Linked DNA regions of Homo sapiens. The protein of the gene in region 3 purifies or fractionates together with the protein of the main gene of each other region. This does not show direct contact. Each region holds a gene or a part of one and is shown on either strand. Other genes may lie near its edges. The genes, in order: RBM45, MKRN2 and PABPN1L.

Evidence for each region.
Region 1: the proteins of PABPN1L (region 3) and RBM45 purify together in Homo sapiens (affinity purification with mass spectrometry; one large-scale study listed by BioGRID and IntAct). This does not show direct contact.
Region 2: the proteins of PABPN1L (region 3) and MKRN2 purify together in Homo sapiens (affinity purification with mass spectrometry; one large-scale study listed by BioGRID and IntAct). This does not show direct contact.

The regions. Positions count from the first base shown.
Region 1 is NC_000002.12:178,115,331-178,118,979, forward strand, and holds part of RBM45 (RNA-binding protein 45), read left to right. Parts: intron 1-931; coding exon 932-1,054; intron 1,055-2,724; coding exon 2,725-2,851; intron 2,852-3,649. UniProt on the Homo sapiens protein: RNA-binding protein with binding specificity for poly(C). May play an important role in neural development.
Region 2 is NC_000003.12:12,577,529-12,581,177, reverse strand, and holds part of MKRN2 (E3 ubiquitin-protein ligase makorin-2), read right to left. Parts: intron 1-3,649. UniProt on the Homo sapiens protein: E3 ubiquitin ligase catalyzing the covalent attachment of ubiquitin moieties onto substrate proteins.
Region 3 is NC_000016.10:88,864,550-88,868,298, forward strand, and holds the start of PABPN1L (embryonic polyadenylate-binding protein 2), read right to left. Parts: upstream 2,112-3,749; 5' UTR 2,058-2,111; coding exon 1,803-2,057; intron 1,393-1,802; coding exon 1,257-1,392; intron 1,082-1,256; coding exon 1,014-1,081; intron 580-1,013; coding exon 473-579; intron 392-472; coding exon 304-391; intron 1-303. UniProt on the Homo sapiens protein: Binds the poly(A) tail of mRNA.

The DNA.
Region 1 (3,649 bases), on a different chromosome or scaffold from region 3:
GCTCTGATGGCACTTCCAATTTCATCTTACCTGAGGTTCTTTTTTTTTTCTCTAGTGTCTTTGCATATACTTAAAGCTTCCCTATTTGTATTTCCCTATTTACCATTTATTACTGATATCAGCCACAAGACTCTAGTGGGCCATTTCCATGTTACTCAATAGTTGTACTCATATGGTGCTTGACATATAGTATAGATTTATTGAAGGAATAACTAGAAGTAGACTATAAAGGGATATGTCTCTAACACTGTGGTTTTCTTGGTTGCTGCTTCCTACTGTGGAATTTCATAAGTTCCAGTTTTCTCATGCTTTAATGATACAGAGCCCCCTTTACCAGCAGTGGATCAGAGACCAAGATATAGAGACCCCTTTAAAGGAAAAAGAAACAAACAATGCAAGTGCCCTTGTTTATGGTGTTTTAATTAATTGTATTACGTTTCTTCAAATTACTCTGGCTAAAAATAAATGCAAAAGTAGAAATACATTTGGGAAAAACACAATGCAGAGATTGGTATTATCTCATAAAAAAAAGTCATTGCAGGCCCAGCACAGTGGCTCACACCTGTAATCCCAGCACTTTGGAAGGTCAAAGTGGGAGGATCACTTGAGCCCAGGAATTCATGACCATCCTGGACAACATAGCAAGACCTTGTCTCTACAAATATTAAAAAATTAGCTGGGTGTGGTGGTGTGTGCCTGTGGTCCCAGCTACTTGGGAGGCTGAGGTGGGAGGATCACTTGAGCCTAGAATGTTGAGACTGCCGTGAGCCATGATCACACCACTGCACTGCAGCCTGCTTTTTTTTTTCTTTGAGACCCTGTCTCAAAGATTAAAAAAAAGTCATTGCAAGAATAATTGCTTTTGAAAAAATTTAAGAAATGGGAAAATAGTTGACATTATTTTATTTTGGGAGTTTTGTTTGTTTCTTAGGTTTTCATTGCTCAGTCCCGATCATCTGGAAGTCACCGAGATGTTGAAGATGAAGAACTTACAAGAATCTTTGTTATGATACCAAAGTCCTACACAGAAGAAGATCTGCGGGAAAAATTTAAGGTATTTATTCTAATCAGCTAGCATATGTGATAACTCATAGTCCTGCATAGGTTGTATGGGTACTAAATCTGAAATGTTGTTGGAATAAGGTCAATAGAGTAGTCTTGGGGAATTACATAACTGCTTTCATCAATTTCAATCTACTCTTTAAATATTAAACCTAGCATAAATTAGTTTTTAAAATTAAAGAATATATAAAAGCTGGAAAATAGTAATGGTAGTCTCTCCCTACTTTATTGTGAAAGTAGAGATTCGCAGAAATGAAGCATAAAGCTCAGAAACTTTTAAGTAAAGTCACACAACTAGTAGGTGGTAGAGCTATGATTTAAACCCAGGCTGTCGGAGTCTGGAGCCTGCTCTTGGTCTTTAAAATTTCAAAGCACGCTTTTATCACTCCCCTCTATTGCCTGGCATGTAGAGGCGAATCAGGCAGACCTGAGTGTGTGAACTGTATTATCTAGTATTGAGAACGGGCCTATGGTGTGTTGACATGGTACTCATTCACAGAAAGGCTTATTCTTTGAAGAGTTTTTGTCCTAAAATTGGGCCTTTGAAGGAATTATATTTAAAGAAGAAAACGTAAATATAGCTCTGACCTATATAAGTGAAATTTGAGGATAATTTTATGTCTTTTTAGCCATTAACTTATGCAGTGATGAGCTTTCACACAAATTATTAAAAAGCAATTTTTTAATTGTTTTGAATTGTAGTTTTTTATCTTTTTTCTACTAATCCTCCCATGAATTGGGTGGCAACAAGCAAGAAAGAAAACAAGCAGTAAAAAGTAATTTTCAAACTTTCTCTCCTACCCCAATTGAGAATTCAATGAAATACTTCAAAAATAACAAATACCAAAAACGTATATTTTATACATCCTCCAGTAGTAAGGAAAATGTTTTTTACCTTAAATATTTATAAATTTTTCTTTTCCTGAATGAACAAATATAACACTTTAATGTATAGTAATTAAGTTGCTAATTGATTACATAAGAATTTATAAAATAAATAATAAATACCAATTATATTCCATATTTCTTTGAACATTGAAAGTAAACACTACTGCATGTTTCTCAGAATAGTAACTTTCTGAGTGAACCAGCATATTTTAGAAATACCCTTTGAAAAGCACTCCTTCAAAAGAATACACAATCATTTATGTTCCTGTTAGAAGACAGACAAGTAATAATAGCTAATGTTCTTTGAGTATGTTCCAAGCCCCATGTAAGCACTTCACATGTTTTACTTCAGTTAACCCTTAAACAACCCTGTGAGGTAGATACTACTGCTAGCCTCTTTAATAAAGAGGTAGGCACAGAGAGAATAAGTAAACTGCCTAATTAATGAGTGGTTGATTCAGGATTTCAATCTAGAAAGTTTAATTCCAGAGCTCTGGCTCTTAACCACTGTTGAGCAAGACTTTGGAGCTATCCAGACCATGTACAAATTCTTACTCTTCTGTGACTTTGTCCCTCTTTGATTTCTCTAAAGCCCAGCTTCCTTATCTATGAAATAAGCATATTTGCAAATACAAATATGCAATATCTGCATATTTTATACTGCCTATTTCTTTGTTTGCATGCAAGGGTCACATATAAACAAATTTTTAGTTCTGAAATACTCTGTTCAATTAATTTTAAGTCCCCTAAAATCATGTCTTTTAACTCTCTTAGGTGTATGGAGATATCGAGTATTGCAGCATTATTAAGAATAAAGTGACTGGAGAAAGTAAAGGTTTGGGCTACGTACGATACTTAAAACCATCACAAGCTGCCCAAGCAATAGAAAACTGTGATCGAAGTAAGGATGTGTTTAACATTGTTAAAAACTTTTGTAAAAAATTCTGATTATTCTAAATAGCTGAATTTAATATTAGTTTTTGCTAATAACTGTATCTGCTAATGTAATTTTAGCAGTGGGTATTTAAATATTTACAGTCCAAGGAAGAAAAATATTTTGGGGTTATGATTAAACATTCATTGAGGCACTATCTTGAAGAAATAAGAGCAACTACATTAACTTAGTAAGTGAAATGCATACTTTGGGTATTATTTTTATAGGTTTTTAGGGTTTTTTAAGTGTATTTTAGAATTTTAAGTATTAAAAACTTGACTTACCTTTTCAAGGTTTTTAAAATATTCTTTATATTTGTTTATATTTGATCTACATCCCAAAGACTATAAAGTATAACTAATAAACCTATAGGTTAAGGGTAAGATTTATAAGATGTGCTAACATAGGTAACTGATATAGATAGGGTTAATTTCAAGCTAGAGTGACATGAATGTGATCTTCTGATGTTGCTGTATATATAAAGAATAAGAATTTTAAAGATGTCAAAGAGAATATTCTTTGTTGGTATACTTCTAGTTAGGTATATTGACCTTTAGAAATGATATGTAGAGTAATTAAATTACTGGATTTTAGGACATTATAAAAATATATACTTACTGGAAAGAATTACTGTTAATCAGTAGAATTCTTAGATACCCCTAAGGTACATACCCAGATTTTCTCTTAGATCCTTCTAAATTTCTCATTTAGCTAGCAGTAATTGAGTACCTGCAGTATACTGATCAATATGCTAAGTAGAGGGAT
Region 2 (3,649 bases), on a different chromosome or scaffold from region 3:
GACCAAACAGTTCAAAATGTTTTCCCTCTCTCTTAATTCTACCATTCTCCCCACAGACCTCTATGTTAAGAACCCTGCCCAAGGAAACTCAATCAAATGAATTCCCATTTTGCTCAAATGAACTCTGGTTTATCCAATCATAAAGGATCCCAAACTGAAGTTAAAAAAAAAAAGATACCCAAGAATCCAGAGGGCCATCTCGGAGTACAGAGGAAGGGGAAAGTCACAGAAATAAAGCCAAACAACAGAAAGGGCACGCTGCTGTCAGGGGCAGCTGGGGTGTGTGACAGCGGGAGACAAGAACAGGGAAAGGAGGCTCCTGAATCCAGTGGTTTTCCGTCTTGTCAGATGGGATGGCCGCAGGCCGGTGGTGAAGTTCTCTGAGGACGGCTTCATAGCAGCATAAAGAAAAGCCCTCTGGCCGGGTGTGGTGGCTCACACCTGTAATTCCAGCATTTTGGGAGGCCAAGGTGGGTGGATCACTTGAGGTCAGGAGTTTGAGACCAGCCTGGCCAACACAGCGAAACCCCATCTCTACTAAAAATACACAAATGAGCTGGGTGTGGTGGCTGGCACCTGTAATCCCAGCTACTCGGGAGGCTGAGGCTGAGGCAGGAGAATTGCTTGAACCCAGGAGGTGGAGGCTGCAGTGAGCCAAGATTGTGCCACTGCACTCCAGCCTGGGAGACAGAGTGAGACTTCGTCTCACTGGGGGTGGTGGCGGGGGGGTAGGGTGGGGGGAGAGAGAACAAGCTCCCTGGCCAGCTGATCTGATTTGAGCACAGGTGGCTGGAGAGCAGGTGTGTGGACGACACATCCTCCAGGCCCCTGCTTGCCTGGAGTTCTGAGCGGACTTCAAATGACCGTGAGCAGTTTGCTCTCACCAGAGCCTGCTGGACAACTCCAGAGCATCCTAGCACACTGGCTATGAACTCGATCAGGTCAAACACATTATATACTGGTCCCCCACTCTCACAAGAATATTACTCTTTTTCCTCCCCCAGGCTTATCTGGTCACCAAGGCCAAAAGCCTCCAGTTCACTCTGACTCACTCTGTGTCCTCGGCTCTCACACCCAACTGTGTTCATTCTGTTTACAAATCACTTCCCAATCTCCCCTTCCTTTGGGTTCCCACACTTGTGGAAGCCTCTGGGGCCTGCCTGCCAGGGCCACTTCCTCACTGGCCTCCCTCCCACTCCCACCAGTTTCCACCTTCAGAGCAGCACGGAGGAGCTTCCCAACCTTTTTTTTTTCTTTAAAGAGATGAGGTCTCCCTATGTCTCCCCTGGACTTAAGCAATCTGCCCTCCTCAGCCTCCCAAAGTGCTGGGATTACAGGCATAAGCCACTGCGCCTGGCCCCAACCTGTTCTTAAAGACCATGGTCACACTGGGATTCAAGTGTCCCTTAGATTCCAGTCTGTAGGTCCCACCACATCCTTCTACACACCTGTTTCAATGCCAGGAGCCACTCCCAGTGTCCCCCAGACACAAAACCTACACCCTTCTGTGCCCATGTCCTTCCATCACTTCCCCCTACAGACAGGTGCTTCCTGCTTCATGGTTCAGGCTCCCATGCTGCTTCCCCTGGCAGCCCCCGGTGGATCCAAGTGCTTTCTCTGTTGTGATAGATGGTCCCTCATGAAGAACTGGTCACCAGCAAACCTGTATCATAATTGCCCTTTTGCAGTTTCCCATGAAGTTGTCTTACTTGGCGGGGCACAGTGGCTCACACCTATAATCCTAGCACTTTGGGAAGCTGAGGTGGGTAGATCATCTGAGGCCAGGAGTTCAAGACCAGCCTGGCCAACATGGCGAAACCCCATCCCTACTAAAAAAATACAAAAATTAGCTGGGTGTCGTGGCGCACACCTGTAATCCCAGCTACTCGGGAGGCTGAGGCAGAAGAATCACTTGAACCCTGGAGGCGGAGGTTGCAGTGAGCTGAAATCATGCCACTGCCAGCCTGGGTGACAGAGCGAGACTCGAAAGAAAAAAGAAATTGTCTTACTAATCTCTACATCCCCCAGTGGTGCTTAGCTAGAAGGTACCTGACCCATAGTGAGTACTCAGTAAATGTTTGTGGATTGCAAAAAACACAGTCATTAAAGGAAAGCAAAGCAAGGAAAGATCCAAATAGCAATAACAATCTCCAGACTGCTTTTCAGCAGAGCCCCTTTCTACAGGCTGGGACCCTTTTCTACAGGCTGGGGCCCTTTTCTACAAGCTGGGACCCCTCTGCTTGCCACGCCTTGCCCTCTTGTGGACACACAGGAAGATTGTATGAGGAAAAAATGGTAAAAAAAAAAAAAAAAAAAAAATCAAGCTTTAGTAAACTAATATGCAACATAAAGGAACCATTAAAAAAGGTAATGCATAGTTTCACTTTTAGTATGACAAGTAAACGCCTGCCATACCCAACCCTCCTGCAGATAAGTCTTAACACAAATATTTCAAGAAGACCTGAAGGCACCAGAGAATGAACAAACGCAGTTAGATTCTTTGGAGGAGTAAACACAAAGAAGAATAGCAATGGCAAAGGCTAAGTTACCTTTTTTAAAAAAGGTAGCTTTTGTGGCTCACATCTGTAATCCCAGCATTTTGGGAGGCCGAGGCAGGTGGATTGCCTGAGCTCAGGAGTTCAAGACCAGCCTGGGAAACACAGTGAAACCCTGTCTCTACTAAAATACAAAAATTAGCCAGGCGTGGCGGCATGCGCCTGTAGTCCCACCTTCTTGGGAGGCTGAGGCAGAAGTGCTTGAACCTGGAAGGCGGAGGTGGCAGTGAGCTGAGACTGTGCCACTGCACTCCAGCCTGGGCTACAAAGCAAGACTCCATCTCCAAAAAAAAAAAAAAAAAAAAAAAAAGAAGTAGCTCTTATCCTGGAGCAGGCCAAAATCATAACCACATGGGGTGGCTAAAACTCCAAGGGGAAATCCAATCTTTCTGGCCTGAAGAACTAAAAGACAAGAGTTCAAGGAAATCACAGCCATTGGAAAGTGAGGAAGCAATCCCACAAAGTAAGGGGCCTGTGAAAAAGTGCTCAAAGGCTGTGTATAAACTCTGCCCAAATCTGACTAACTCCCAAACCACACAGGAATGCGACAAAGTCAGCTACGAATGCAAAACCAGAACTGAGATCTGAACTGCTACCTGGGTTTGAGTTCAAACAATTTACCTGCCTGTTAAAAACAGCAACACTTGGCCAGGCGCAGTGGCTCATGCCTGTAATCCCAGCACTTTGGGAGGCCGAGGTGGGCGGATCACCTGAGGTCAGGAGTTTGAGACCAGCCAGGCTAACATGGTGAAACCCCGTTTCTACTAAAAATACAAAAAATTGGCCAGGTGCAGTGGTGCATGCCTGTAATCCCTGCTACTCGGGAGGCTGAGGCAGGAGAATCGCTTGAACCCGAGAGGCAGAGGTTGCAGTGAGCCGAGATTGTGCCACTGCACTCCAGCCTGGGCAACAAGAGTGAAACTCCGTCTCAAAAAAAAAAAAATCATCACTTTACAGATAAACCATAACAGAATCCTAAGTCTCTCTACAATGTAATATTTACAATGTCAAGGATAAAATCTAAAATTACTAGACATACGAAGAATCAGGAAAATGTGATCCATTCTTAAAAGACAACAGAGGTCAACTTCAAG
Region 3 (3,749 bases):
CACGGCCAGCACCCCTGCAGAGGGGGGGGTCACGGCCAGCACCCCTGCAGAGGGGGGGGTCACGGCCAGCACCCCTGCAGAGGGGGCTCCCGCCCGAGAGGGGACACTTCCCCACCATGCCACTGGCAGACCAAACCCAGCTTCAGGTCCGAGGGTCCCGCCACATCCTGTCCAGGCCCAGCCAAGCACCGTGCCTGAGACACGCTGTGCAGAGAGGAGCCAGCTGGGGCTGCTGTGTGTCCCAGGGCCAGTGGGCCAGCCCCTCTGCGCTCATGTTCCTGGACCTGGGGAGCACCGGCGCACCTTGATGACCCGGCCCCGGAAGAGGCTCTGGTCCAGCTCCACGGCGGCCTGCACGGAGCCCTTGGTGGCAAACTCTATGTAGGCATAACTGAGGGGAGGGGCAGGGAGGGGAGGGGTGAGGCTGGGCCCTGTCCGCATGGCCAGTGCCCCCACCAGGCCCCACACTGACCCCTTGGGGTGTCCAGAGAACTTGTCACACAGGATCGTGACTCGGTGGACCTCCCCACAGCGGCTGAAGTGGGCCTCCAGCTCCTCGGCGGAGCCCCCGTAGTCCACCTGCACCCAGGCCCAGACCAGCATGTGAGGGAGACGCCTGGCCCTGACTCGGGGCCTTCTTGTTAGAGGTGAGGAAAGAAACCCCAAGGCTGGGCCCCGTGGCGGGGATGGCCCCAGGCCTCCACCCCACACCCCCGCTGGGGTTGGAGGGAAGAGAGGAAAGGATATCTCGTATGGAGCGCTTCCTTCTGGAGAGCTGGAGCCTTTTAAAAAGCTTCTCAAAAGTGGAGATTTCATGTGCAACCCCGAATTCCAGCTCATGTTGAAAAACTGGAATATGTGCCCAGGCCAGTGTTTCCTCAAGGTGACGGGGCTGCCCCCAGGGTCAGACCCCCTTCCCAGCAAGGCTGCCTGGCCCATGGCCGGGCGCCAGACCCTCTGGTAGAGATGGGGCCCCATTCGCTGCCTGCCCCTTCACCCCGCCCACCACTCACGTTGCCCACGTAGACGGATCTGTGGTCAGCCTCCACCTTCTCCTCGGGGGTCCCAGAGAGGGGGCAGCCTGCGGAGAACACAGCTCAGGCCCGCAGGCCCTTGGTTCCTTCCTCACTCCTCTCACGGGGAAGGTCGCCCAGGCTTATAGGGGAGGTGACACCTTGGAGCCTGCCAGGCCCAACCTTAATGGAAACTGTGGGACCCTTGCTCAGTGGGGGGCGGCCTGTGCCCTTGGTTCCTACCCACGGTCTCAGGGCTCAGCAGCTGCCCGGCCGCGGTGCCCTCCTCTTCCTCGGCCTGTTGCTGCACTCCTGGAGGCCGTGGCGTCCCCTCGGCCTGCTCCATGGCACACACCTTCATCTTGATGGCCTCCAGCTCCTGCCGACACACGGCCCTGAGCCGGGCAGGCAGCCTGCAGGCTCTGCTCAAGGAAGGTGGGTGTGTGGCCTGCCAGCTCCAGCAGAGGGTCACAGCCCCAAGGGGCAGCCCTTCTCTGGACAGGGACACTCCTTCCTGGGGCAGCTGGCTGGGGATGAACTCGCCCCTGCAGAGAAGCCCCCGAAACCGCACCTCAAGGGCCCTTCCCCAGGCGAGAGAGGCCACCTTGACCCTGCAGTCTGTGTGGCTGGGGGCGGGGGGTCTCCTTGCCACCTTCGTCCAGGCAGGTGGGCAATGGCCCTCTCCCCTCCTAAGTCAGCTGCAGCCATCCGTCACCCAGACCCCGTGTCTCCACCAGCCCCTGTGCCCCAGGTCCCCTGAGATCCCCAGGGCCTCCACACAGCTGTTACCTGGTCAGGCAATGGGCACTCAGCCAGGTTCTCTTGCTCCAGCAGAGACAGCAGAAAGCCTGCATCCCCATCCTGGTCTTCCTCTGCATCCTCTTCCTCCTCTTTCTCCTCCTTCCCTTCCCCACCCTCTGGCCCCAGAATCTCCTTGGTCTCGTTCCAGGCCCCCCAGCCCTGGGCCTCAGGGTCTGAGGAGACCGTCTGGAGCCAGGCCTGAGTCGGGGGTGGGAAGAGAGAGCGGCTCGGGAAGGGCCACATGGTAGAGGGGCAGGAGGAAGGTGGGCCAGGCGAGGCCTCCCCTCCACTCCCCTCGCGTCCGCACCTGCCCAGGCTCTCCTGGAGTTTTAAGCCCTCCCCTGAGGCCAGCTGCTCCCACTAGAGCATTTGCAAAGGCTGAGTGGGGCTGAGCTTCCAGCCTTGGCTCCCGGCCCCGCCCCTTCCCTGTCACTCGGACAGGTACCTCCAGGACACTCTCCCTGGAGGAAGGAGAGGCTGAGTTGAGTGGGGGTCACCGGTCTCTTCTGCTTCCGCCTGGCCACGCTGTGGCTCACTGGAGCCTTGGTCTGTGACAGGGTTCACACCTCAGCAGCATCCACACGGCACGAACGCCACACTGCATGAACACTCGATCTAAGTGGGAACACGGGAGTGGTTTCTTCTAGTACCAGGGACCAAGCAGGCTGGAGAGGTGGCTTCCGACCAGGAGAGGCAGGGCCTGAGCAGAGACCGAGAGCAGGTGCATGGGATGAGAGGGCCGAGGCAGGTTGGGGCGGGGTCCTGGGCCCAGAGGAGGGGCAGCAACAGCTGTCTCTGCATCCTGACCCCCATGGAGTCCCCAGGGACCCTTGCCTCCCTAACCCTTATTCTGGGCCTTTTTTTTTTTTTTCTTTTTTTTTTAGGCAGGAGTCTTGCTTTGTTGCCAAGTCTGGAGTGCGGTGGCGCGATCTCGGCTCACGGCAACCTTTGCCTCCCAGGTTCGGGTGATTCTCCTGCCTCAGCCTCCTGAGTAGCTGGGATTACAGGCACCTGCCACCATGCCCAGCTAATTTTTTTTGTCTTTTTAGTAGAGACAGGGTTTCACCATGTTGCCCAGGCTGGTCTCGAACTCCTGACCTCAGGTGATCCGCCCGACTCGGCCTCCCGAAGTGCTGGGATTACAGGCGTGAGCACCGCACCTGGTCTGGGTCATCTTTTAGGTGGGAGCCACTTCCATGAGGCCAGAATTATTCTGCTGTGGGGCGGGGGCTCCGTGGGGAGTGACGGCGTGAGTTATTGTGGGGCGGGGTCTCCGTGGGGAGTGACGGCGTGAGTTACTGTGGCGGAATTCAGTGGGCATCCGGTGGTGTCTGCACCTGGCTTCACCCATGCAGGGTTGCAGCAGGAGGTGACCCGTGTCCGCCCTTGCGCCTCCCTCTGCACCTGCCACCGCGGCTGCTGGAGTCTGCTCTGGCCTTCATCTCCAGTGCTGCCGTCTCCCACCCACTCTGTGAAGGACTCGGGGCCAGGGGGTCATGCATGGCTCTTACCCCTGCCATTGGTGGTGGGAGACGGGGCCCCCTGCACAGCTCCTACCCCCAGGCCGAGGCCATCCTCTCTGTGACTGCACCCCGGTGTTTAGCCAGTGGGGCTGGGATTCCTGGGAATTTGGGACTGGGGGAGGAGAGAGAGACAGGGCGTGGCCTAGGCTGGAGCTGCACTGCTGCACCATGCACCACCCACGCAGGGCGGCCCTTCCTCCATCTTGGGCTGGGGGCTCGGGGAGCAGGTGGACATGGAGGCTGCCACAGCCTGGGAACCCAGGCTCCTGCACCCAGTCTGTTCTCACCTCTGTAAAAGCCAGAAGGTGTCTGAGATGGGTCTCAATCAATCAGTTTAGAGGTGTATCTTGCCAAGGTTAAGGGTGCACCCAGGAAAAAGAAACACGAAGCCACAGGCAACATCTGTGCTCTG